Regions from separate parts of the Homo sapiens genome. Here region 1 is linked to region 2. The links come from fine-mapping of genetic effects on gene expression. A gene starts in region 2. The other region holds a variant in brackets. All regions are shown on one strand. Distances are from middle to middle.

Region 1 (5,371 bases), 38 kb before region 2:
GATGGAAGTAGGTGGGACAAGCTGGCTTGCTGAGTCTTCTGGCTTTCATCCTTCTCCCGTGCGGGATGCTTCCTTCTGTTCCTCCTGCCCTCGGACATCAGACTCCAGGTTCTTTAGCCTTTGGGCTCTTGGACTTACACCAGTGGTTTGCAGGCGGGCTCTTGGGCCTCGGGACACAGACTGAAGACTACACTGTTGGCTTCCCTACGTTTGAGGCTTTTGGACTCAGACTGAGTCACTACTGGCTGCTTTCTTCCCCAGCTTGCAGACGGCCTATCATGGGACTTCGCCTTGTGATCATTTGAGCCAATTCTCCCTGATAAACTCCTTTTCATATGTATACATATACGTGTGTGTGTGTGTGTGTGTGTGTGTGTGTGTGTGTGTGTGTGTGTAGGATACATATATCCTATTAGTTCTGTCCCTCTGGAGAACCCCAACTAAAACACCTACTCTAGGGGATGTTTTGAAATGAACATCCAAGGGCAAAGGGAAGGCAATGGACTGACAGGCCGCATGTTTTCACATATGTAATCTCATGTGCACGGACAATACAGAGGCTTCTGTGGTTGAAGTGCTGGAGCCCACAAAAGCAGAAAATGAAGCTGAGGTTGGACCTACTCAGGGGTGGGGGTGGGGGGGAGTTGGAGTAAGTTGGGCAGTTTCCATTTTAACCAAGAGACCACAGGGAGTCACCATGGGTCTGTGGGCAGGAGAGGGCACACTCCAGTGGTGTCTGAGGCTGTTGCTTCAGAAGGTTGGAGGCAGACCAGCTACGAGCTGGAGCACAGGAAGAAAAGGAACAGAAGAGGGGATCCATCCAGTGAGGGGACAGGGGCAGGAGGCTGGGCAGACAAATGTGGGCCCCAAAGGACTGGAACCCAGTCCATGGCACCCTCCCTGCAGCCCTAGTCAGGGGCAGGTAATGGCTCCAAGTCTGCCCTTTGGGATGCTGGCCTCTGAGAAGCGAGGTCATTGAGGGGAAGAGGCCCAGATTGGGAGAAAGAAGGCTGTGTGAGGCTTCAGGGGTCCAGTTTTCAAGGTACTGAGCGAGCCACCAGGAGCACAGAGGCAGGCTTTTTCCCAATCCTGCTCTTTCATACACCACCCCACTCCCAAAGGACCCTGCCACACCTGCCACAGCTAGAATCTGTAAGAGACGCCAACATAACACAGGCCTGGGAAACCAGCTCCATCAGACATGGCTCCTGCTACCAAGGCCAGAGTGCCTTGACCTGGGCTTCTTTACACATTATCCCACAGTAGTGGTTCTCAAAGTACCATCTCCACGCCAGCAGCATCCGCATCAGCTGGTACAGCGTTAGAAACCTAAATTATTGGGCCTCACCCAACCCACTGAACTGGGAACTTTGGGAGTGGGGTCTAGCAGTCTGTTAAGTCCACCAGAAGGTTAGACGCAGCTTCATTTTGGAGGAACCAGTGAACTCCAGAAAGGCCTAAACCATGCAGACCCATTCATTTTCATTTTGACAGTAGTGACCCATCACGCTGTCCTGAGGTTTTCCTACAGGACAATTGTCAATGAAGAAATCGTTTGTTTGGTCACGATAGCGTGTGGGCTGATTTAAAGGCGTGTCTAGCTCAATAACAACTGTTTTCAGAAACTTTTTGAAGCACTGTAACAATCCCACCTCCCAAATATTAAGTTGTTGATTACGAGTGGTTTTTAGGCCTTTATTAACTAACATTAATCTTCACAGCACATTCCTATGCATTTCCCGATGTGGACCTCAGGCAGGGACTCTGGCTTACTTGCTTTTGTGCCCAGTTTTGTTTGGCTGTATATTCATAGTGCCCAGTGCAGCAGTAGGTGCTCTTTACATATCTGCTGAATAAACCAATCTAGGTAGGGCTGGCATTCTCATGATTCTGATTTTGCACAGGAGAAAGCGAAGGCTCAGAAGACAGAAGTATTTATAAATTGTGCCCTGCCTCCCTGCCTGCATAAAGGGTGCAGGGCTGTCTCAGAGCAGCTGGGATCCAAGCCACAGGTGGCACAGCTAGCAAATGACTGACTCAGCATTTCCTTCTAGGGCTGCTAACCCAGAGTGGAGCAACTCTTTGCTTAGCTGTGGCTGAGAAAATGCCCTTCCCTAGGGGAGAAAAAGCACGTTTTCCTGCACAAGCCAGTCTATAATTCCAAAGCACTTTCCCTCCGGGTGCTAGTATGTGACTGAGATATGGTCGAATCTAAACCAAGTCACAAAATCAGTGATATCCATTGTGCGGAGGTATCCACTAGATGCCACTGCCAAGTTAAGAGAGCTGAATCCTAATCGTGAGGTTTTGAGGGGAGGTGTGTGACTTTCTCAGAGAGATTAAATGTAGCATTAAACATCCGCTGTAATAAACCGTAATTTTCTTGGGATTGGACCGGAAGGGCAACAAGCCCTGGAGATAGCTTTCCTCCGGGTTGTCGCCTTGGATGCCGGATCTGTCAAAGAAAAGGAAAAGTCTCCTGGCGTATGGACTTCAGGACACAAACAGTTGTATCTTGTGCTTCTCCCAGCACAATCTAGCGCTATAATGCACCTATGGCATCTTTGTTGAATACATGCTCCTGTATATGGACTGCCTAGGATGGATGATCGGGTGAACTGAGCCATAACTTTGAGAGAGCTTTGAAAGAGAAAGGCATTCTCTTCTCCTCTACTCTGCATCAGGAGTTGTTCTCTATGCTGATTTTCAGGAGCGGACTGAAAAAAGAGGTGTGACAGATAAAGCTCGCCAAAAAGGTCTTTTACTTGATATATACTATGACTCAGTGTTCACATTGGGCTAGGGTTATTATTTCAATTTCTCTTTAAAAATTGACACAACTAAGGCTCAGAGAAGTTAAGTGTTTTATCCGAGGTCACACAGCAAGCATGTGCCTGGGCTCAGGTCTCTCTGAGCCTGAGCCCTTGCTTATGCTTCCTCCCCTGCACATTCTGGGATAATCTCTCTCTCTTTCTCTCTCTCTCTCTCCCTCCCTCCCTCCGTCAACTCCCAGAGACCAGGCTCTGACAGGATCCTGAGGGATTCCTGCCAGAGGGTTGCCATCTCTGGAAGCCCCCACCCCCACGCCGGGT[G/C]AATCTTTTTTTCTGTGGAGTGCGGGCCTGGAGCTAGGTGAGGCCTGAGCCTCCATTTCAGGGGCTTTCTGTAGAATCTGTTGCTGCTGTTGCCTCCAGCAGAGTCTGTTTCAGGAAGAGGTTTGCCTGCCTGCGCGGGACAGCGGTGCCATTCATCACTGCAGGAGGGCAGAATCCGGGGTTGGGGGCCGCACGTCGAGAGGGGAGGGGCCAGGGGGCGGCCCCCTTGTGACCAGCCCTGAGGAGAGGTCAGGAGAGAAGGCTGGCTGAGGAGCGCCTGGACAGCAGCAGTTGCTGACGTTCTATATCACGCGCCTGGGGCCCAAGGTAACCCAGACCTTTAAACAAACTGCCGGGCTGGGGGTGTTGCGGGGGCAGGAGAGGGAAAAGGGAGCGGAGACTTCGGGGGTCGCGCGAGGATAGTGGTGGCCATAGAGGTGGCAAATGCGTGAAGGGAGGGAGTAGTAATCCGAATTCTAGGAGAAATCATAGGAATTGAAGTCGCAGAAGCAAGAAAAGGGGTGTGAGAGCACAAGCGCGAAAAAGCGTGAGAGGGCGCAAGAGCTGGGTGGACCGAAAGTGCGCTGAGGGGCAACGGCTTAGAGTGGAACACACCGGGTCACAGAAGTATAGGTTAGGTAGAAACAGAGGGACACTTTCTTCCTGTGAGTTCATTTTCCAAAAGTGCGTCCTTTCAGCCATTTTGGAGAGAAAATGTTGACCCAAGTGTTTTTTAGGATACAGGGAAAGAACGTCAGAGGAAGCTGCACCAAAGCGAGGCTGCGCAGGGCGCAAAAAAGCAGTCAGAGGGTGGCGCCTTTTTTAAAGAAGTTTCCATCCTTTCTGTCCTAAAGCTCAGGCCGTTCCCCACCCCCACCGCTCGCTAGCCTTCTGTTCCCAGTCCCCTGGCATGATCTGATCGCCTTTGAAGCAGGTAACCGCCTCGGTCTCCCCATCAGCTCCAGGGGCCTCTCAGTTGAGTGGGTGGAGCCGACAGAAGCCGCGGGCTGAGCTCAAGGGCCGATGGGAGGGGTCCTGGGGGCGCTAACTGCGCACCGCGGCCATGACGCTGGGCAGATCATTCACAGAAGTCTCTGTCTCCTTTCATCTACAGTCGCAGCTGTTTTCCAGACGCCTTGCTCCTCAGGTCGGGGAGTGATCTGATGGCCCAGGTTCGAGAAACTTCTTTGCCCTCCGGCTCTGGGGTCCGCTGGATCTCCGGAGGTGGGGGAGGAGCCTCTCCTGAGGAGGCGGTTGAGAAGGCGGGGAAAATGGAGGAGGCGGCGGCGGGGGCTACGAAGGCGTCTTCGAGACGTGAAGCCGAGGAGATGAAGCTGGAGCCATTACAAGAGCGTGAGCCCGCGCCGGAGGAGAACTTGACGTGGAGCAGCAGCGGCGGCGACGAGAAGGTGCTCCCTTCAATCCCCCTTCGCTGTCACAGCAGCTCCTCGCCCGTTTGCCCGCGCCGCAAGCCCCGCCCTCGGCCCCAGCCCCGGGCCCGCTCCCGCAGCCAGCCTGGGCTCTCGGCCCCACCCCCGCCTCCAGCCCGGCCCCCGCCCCCGCCGCCACCCCCGCCCCCACCCGCACCGCGGCCCAGGGCCTGGCGTGGATCCCGGCGCAGATCCCGGCCTGGGTCCAGGCCTCAGACACGGAGAAGCTGCTCTGGTGACCTAGACGGGTCGGGGGATCCTGGCGGCTTAGGGGACTGGTTGCTGGAGGTCGAGTTTGGTCAGGGTCCCACAGGCTGCTCTCATGTGGAGAGCTTTAAAGTAGGTAAGAACTGGCAGAAGAACCTGAGGTTGATCTACCAGCGTTTCGTTTGGAGTGGGACCCCAGAGACTAGGAAACGTAAAGCAAAGTCATGCATCTGTCACGTATGTAGTACCCATATGAACAGACTCCACTCTTGTCTCTCCTGTGTCTTTTTTGGCTGCTTCACTGAGAAACATATTCACAAACATGCAGAAACAAAGCAGCACCATTTAGCTGTAGACCTTTATCATGGGGTCATATATTGCTTCATGTGTAAGGATTATGTATATGACAAAGACATAGAACAGATTGCCAAAGAAACAAAAGAAAAAATTTTGAGATTATTAACTTCCACCTCAACAGATGTTTCTCATCAACAGTTTATGACATCAGGGTTTGAAGACAAGCAATCAACCTGTGAGACAAAGGAACAGGAGCCAAAATTGGTGAAACCCAAGAAAAAGAGAAGAAAAAAGTCAGTCTATACTGTAGGCCTGAGAGGGCTAATCAATCTTGGGAACACTTGT
Region 2 (5,371 bases):
GGCAGAGACCGGCAGCAGGGTGGCCTAGAGGAAAGCACTGTGGGTTTGCAGGGAATGGACATAGGGTCTTGTCTAGGATCTCTCTCTTGCCACTTCTGTGGCTCTAGAAGAGAAAGTCACCGAGGAACCTGGACCTCAGATTCCCACCTTGTTTACCTCTGGAGGTGGTATTGATAAATACAGCTCCTCCCAGGGCAAAGAACAGGCCTTTTGATTTTCTGCAGCTCCAGTTTCTAACACACTGTCTGAATCCCAGAAGGCGCTCACCATTTTCTGGCTTGCTGAATGAATTTGGAGCTGCTGATGGGGTCATAGTTACTACTTTTGTTTGAAGCCTCCTTGGCCTGCAAGCTGAGGAGAGTGGGTCCCTGGGCCTTCTCCAGAAGGTCATTTGCTAGCCTACCCTGCACCTAGTGACGTTACTTTGCACACAGCTGGAAGCAGCGTGAGCCTGGATGTCAAGAAGGAAGAAGGTAGCCTGACCACTCTTTTGTGTGTTATAGCTGCTACCATGAGCCCCACAGGGCTAGGTTGGGCACTTGTCACTAGTGCTCCCCAGCAGGGGACCTAGTTCATGCAGTGCTTAGCTCTTGGAGAAAAGGTGGTAGGATTTGCGCCTGATCCCACATGACTTAGTATAGCATGGGCCATCGTGCCAGGTACCAATCCGGACTTACTCCATTGCCCCTTTGCCCCCTTGGACACACACACTTTTAAACAATGTGTGCACCCTAACGAACCATAGTTCCTGAGAGAAGTGCAAGGTTACCTTTCGGAGATGCCACAGGTGGAGCCTTTTCTCTGGCTCATCCAGTATCTCAGAAGTTCTGCTTTTTTATAGCCTTTTCTCGAATTATTTCAGGGTTGTTATTATTAACCATTTTTATTGTCATTAGTTTAAAGTCAGCCACAACACCCACCCTTTGAGGGTCTGCCCCGCTCACTTCTTCCCTTGCCTCATTCCTTGTTCTCCACTTTCCCCTTCATATAACCTTAACAGTTCGGTGAAGAGTTTATTTCCAAATGTCCACGCTACCTTCAGTGCCTCCATTTTTACTCCCTCCCCTTCTTCTCTATTATTTCCAAACCTCAGATTGTCCCCTCACCAAGATTTTCTGACGGTCTCATCTTTTTTTATTTCTGAAGTACCCCATGACAACCTTTTCCCCTGCAACCACCCCTTCTCTCTGCCCTCCTCCTCTCAAGATGATTTTTGTGTATTTTCTACTTCCGTGGCAGGCACCCTGTGATGTCCTCTTCTTTTTGCCAGTGCTCCCTCCCCTATGCTGGGTGGAGTATCCAATCAAATATCTAATACATAATATTTTCATCATATATTCTGATCGTATATTTCAGTCCCCCCCAAACTTATTTAAGTGTCTCTTGAATTTTCACACATCCTATGGTGCTCCCTTCCCCGGCCCACTCCCCAAGACAGGTCACATAAGGTTTTTTACATTTTCATGGCACTTCAGGCTCGTTCTCTATCCCAGCATTTACTGCACTGCCAGTTTACCTATTTTTCTTTCCCACATAATCTAGAACATTCTTTGGACCTGGAGGATGTGTACTAGGGAGTATCCCTAGAATCTAGACTGGTGCCTCACATAACAGGTGGTCAGAAAATGCGCAAGATGTACTATTCGTTAGGCTTTTATTTTTCTCTATGTTCTGCAGTAACTAAGGAAAATCATGGTAAATGTCAATCTTCACACAACAGCAGACACAAAGGGTTTCAGAAACGTCAGATATGAAGAAATCCTCCATCCTTCTTCAACATTTTACTGGGTATTTCAACTTCAAAAGAACAGCTTATTTCTATAAGTGCTGTACAAGATCATAGATTATGATGGAACGACTTCATTTTAGAACGTTAGCAAAACTGTTATACTAAATGTCAATGACAGGAAACAAAGAAAAAAATTTGTTCAATTATATTTTTAAACATATTGTTATTCTCAACAAACGGAATTTTAAAACGAATACAATTTTCCATTATCAAAAGCAAACACTCTATTTCGCAGTTGAACAATGATCACTGATCACAAATATCAAATACAGTGTCCCCCGCCCCCAATCGACATCATTTTCAACTTAGGACCCTGGCATCTACTCCTTGGGGTACCTGTGACTCTCTTTTACACCCCCAAGGGTCTGCCTCAGATCTACTTAAGGGGCGGAATAACCCCTAGCACCTGAATTGAGGATAGCCTCAACCTCTGCATCATCGTCCGAATCCCAGTCATAATTACAAGGCCAGTCTTTAGAGCATCGGTTACGAACCCTTGCCACAAAATGCATGACTTTCAGTTTGCTCGATTCCACGTGTGCTCGGGGCCCCCAGAAGAACTCATACTCCACCGGACTGCTACGGGGCACCGGTTTATAAATCAGGTACCCTCTGCGCACAAACTCTTCTGTGACGATCTTCTTCGGATCTCCAAAGATGCTGTGCTGACGTCCAGGCTGCATTCCTAACTTCCCCAGCACTTTCCAGACCAGAGCTTCCTTGGCGCTGTTGCCCATGATGAAGATGAGCGCTAATATAGACATCAGGAGACTTTTCTTGGTGCCCTGAAAATTGCTCCGGGGCACTGAAGGCTTTTGTGCTTGGGCAGTGCTCGAGGCTTCTTCAGGGGTGGTAGAGGCCTCCTCTGGAGTGCTCGGGTCTTCCTCGGGGCCGCTCAGGTCGTCTTCGGGGGTGCTCGCTACCACAGAGGCGGCCATAGGGGTCTCGGAGGCCTCTGAGGCCTGGATTTTGCGATTGTTGCGGTTCTCTTCTGCGGCTCTCGCATTACGGCGGCGCCGACTCTTTCGTCCCCGAGGCATGTCTCCTGCTAGAGGCTCAAAGCTTACAGCAGTCCTAGGGAAGGATGCTTGTAGCCTCTTCAGGAAGCAACAGCTTTATACCGTAAGAAGCTGCTGCCGCTGAAGCTACCAATGTCAATAGAGTCTTTGTAGCAATAAACAAGCCGTTCTCAGCTACAAAGGGTAGTTCCCACGCCAGCTGACTTGCGCGAGCAGCCGCCGCCAGCACTTGCCGCAGCTGCAAGCCCGCGAGAAAGCTCAGCAAAATTGGCCCCGCCTCTCCTGCCACGCACACTCCTAGCACCAAAGAGGAAGTAGGCTGGTCCTCCACAGGGACTTCCGCTAGCAGATAGGAAAAGGGGCAGGCAGCGACAGGGGTGGGACAAGGGCAGAAATGACAGCTAGAGATTGGAGGGGCCTGGAGTTTGCAGAAGAGAAAAAAATAGCTTAAAGTTTCTGTATTTTCAGCCTACTACAAACATTCCAAGATTGGCTCGACGGTCTAGGGAAGGAGTGCGTCGGCTCCATTCCCACTGACGACGGGCTGTGTGTGTGTTGGGGGTTGGGAGGCCAGGGGTGGCGGGAGGGTGTATTCTTGGAAGGAGTCAGCTGTCTCCAGCCTTCCTTTCCTGTCTTGGCTTACACAGCGCGTTCATTCACTCGCCCTGTTTTCAGAAGGCATTTGTGTGTATACTAATCAATTTGTGGTCCCATGTAGGACCCGGATAATATTGTTATGGCAGATGTGCTGGATGATGTGAGGAGATGGGACTGCAGAAACAAGCAGGGTGAAAGAGGTGCAGAGCCTTTAAAATGTGGTAGATATATGCACGATATATATACTGCCCTGCTTTTATACATACATACATACATACCTATATCGTGCATATATCTACCACATTATGTTTATATACAGTGCATATATCTACCACACATATATGTATGTATGTATGTATGAAAGCAGGGCAGTGACAGGATCAGAGGAATTGCATTTGTGCAGCCTCTCAGAAAAGCAAACTGTTTCCTGGCAGACCACATAGGAAGCAATTGGAATAAGAAGCACTGGGAACTAAAGTATGCCTTAAGGCTGTTGCCATGGGGATGGAGAGGCAGAAAGACATTTTAAAGGTGACCGTTGAAGGGCTTTGCAGACAGAATGGATGAAGTGGGGAATGTGGAGGGGATGATGGAGTTCAGATTGGCTCCAAGGTTTCTAGGCTCCAGTCTTCCTGGACTCCTGATTTATTTTGCTTCTTTCAGAGCATACTCTGAACTTTATCCACTGCTTGCTTTTGCTCACTGTTTGCTCTGCCTGACCTGTCTTCTCAGCCTTCTCCAACTATCTAAATTCCATTTGACTGCTCACAGACCTGTTTCTCCCTGAAGCTTGTCTTGATCTGCCCAAAAGGGTAATGAGTCCATTTTTACTCCATTGAGGAAAGCCCTATAACTAGCACTCTATATCTTTCTTATGTCATTCAAGGTATTAGTTTAAGCAAGTCACTTCTCTCTAAGCCTGTTTTCCCATCTATAAAGTGGGGCTAAAGTACAGCCCTCATAGGGTTGTGAGAATTAAATGAGATAAAAAATGAAAAGCATTTATTACATGGTAAGCACAGATTTTGCCTCTCAAGGTTTTCCAAGCGGTGTGTGAGTGTGGCATTTAATAAATGCGTGCTGAAGGAATTCATGATGGAAAAGATTTTATAGGTGTTCTTAACTGAACTCTTAAGAAACAAATGAATACTTTATGCCTGTCTTGCTGAAATTTTCTTTATAATTAGAGCCCACCGAGACCTCCTGTTGGGTAAGTTAGCAATAAATCAATTTGGTCAAGCAAAGAAAGCACCTCTCCAGGACACAGAGCACTCTTGAGCCAGCCCTCCGTTTGGGATAACCTTTGCACGCGTTCTGGGACATGACCTACTCAAAACAGTAGTCTGGCTCCATCTGCTGTCCCACATTCTGAGAATTCTCGCAGTTTCTGGTCCATTGATAATTGCTCTGAATTGTTTTTCAGTACAGGTATGAACTTATTTTACTGTTTCCAGGAATTTGGGTCTTGCATGGAAGTCTATAGCATGTACAATCCTACCCTCATGAAACAAAAATGGGAGGATTACTTTTGCAGTTTATTTGCTTGTTTTTAGCATGAATTTTTTTTTACTGCGACTTAATCTCAAACGTAGGGCAAAGAAGAGAGATTAATATTATAAACACCAATAGCTAGCTGTATAAAATTTAAATATTAGGCCCTACTTACTGTTTATCTTTTATATATTGGATATGGCAAAACCCTCCTATTACGTCTTCCCTGACCCACTCTGCTCTCTCCTTCCCCACTGTGCTCCTCTATAATGAAGTCAGCAATTATGCCCATGGAGACTTGTATATATTTGCTACCTACTTCTGTGTCTGTACACAATATAGAATCTCTTCCTTTATTTAAAGCACGTCTTCATAATGTATACATTGATCAACACTTTGGTTTTCCAGCTCAACTTTATATTTTTTATGTTTACCCATGTAAATACATGGAACTCTAGTTCATTTATTTTAATTT

What was found. PIP is the estimated chance that this variant, and not a neighbour inherited with it, causes the effect.
Region 1: its variant is the best candidate, but not a certain one, in a credible set for the expression of MAGEH1 in blood mononuclear cells (TOPMed, PIP 0.65).

The regions. Positions count from the first base shown.
Region 1 is chrX:55,487,824-55,493,194 of GRCh38, reverse strand. It overlaps USP51 (ubiquitin specific peptidase 51), which reads left to right and starts at 3,347. Exons shown (of 3, transcript NM_201286.4): 1 at 3,347-3,419; 2 at 3,830-4,026; 3 at 4,207-5,371. The coding sequence starts at 4,256. LOC101928692 (a long non-coding RNA gene) reads right to left here and starts at 4,254. Exons shown (of 2, transcript XR_244468.5): 1 at 4,149-4,254; 2 at 1,682-3,330. RefSeq lists silencers at 3,155-3,264, 4,585-4,664 and enhancers at 3,655-3,754, 3,975-4,414, 3,932-4,791. The variant G/C (reference allele first, on the strand shown) is at 3,093.
Region 2 is chrX:55,449,833-55,455,203 of GRCh38, reverse strand. MAGEH1 (MAGE family member H1) reads right to left here and starts at 3,077. Exons shown (of 1, transcript NM_014061.5): 1 at 1,638-3,077. The coding sequence starts at 2,829. The coding sequence ends at 2,170. MIR4536-2 (microRNA 4536-2) reads right to left here and starts at 3,709; the gene lies at 3,622-3,709. It overlaps MIR4536-1 (microRNA 4536-1), which reads left to right and starts at 3,622; the gene lies at 3,622-3,709. RefSeq lists enhancers at 2,615-2,664, 2,815-2,864.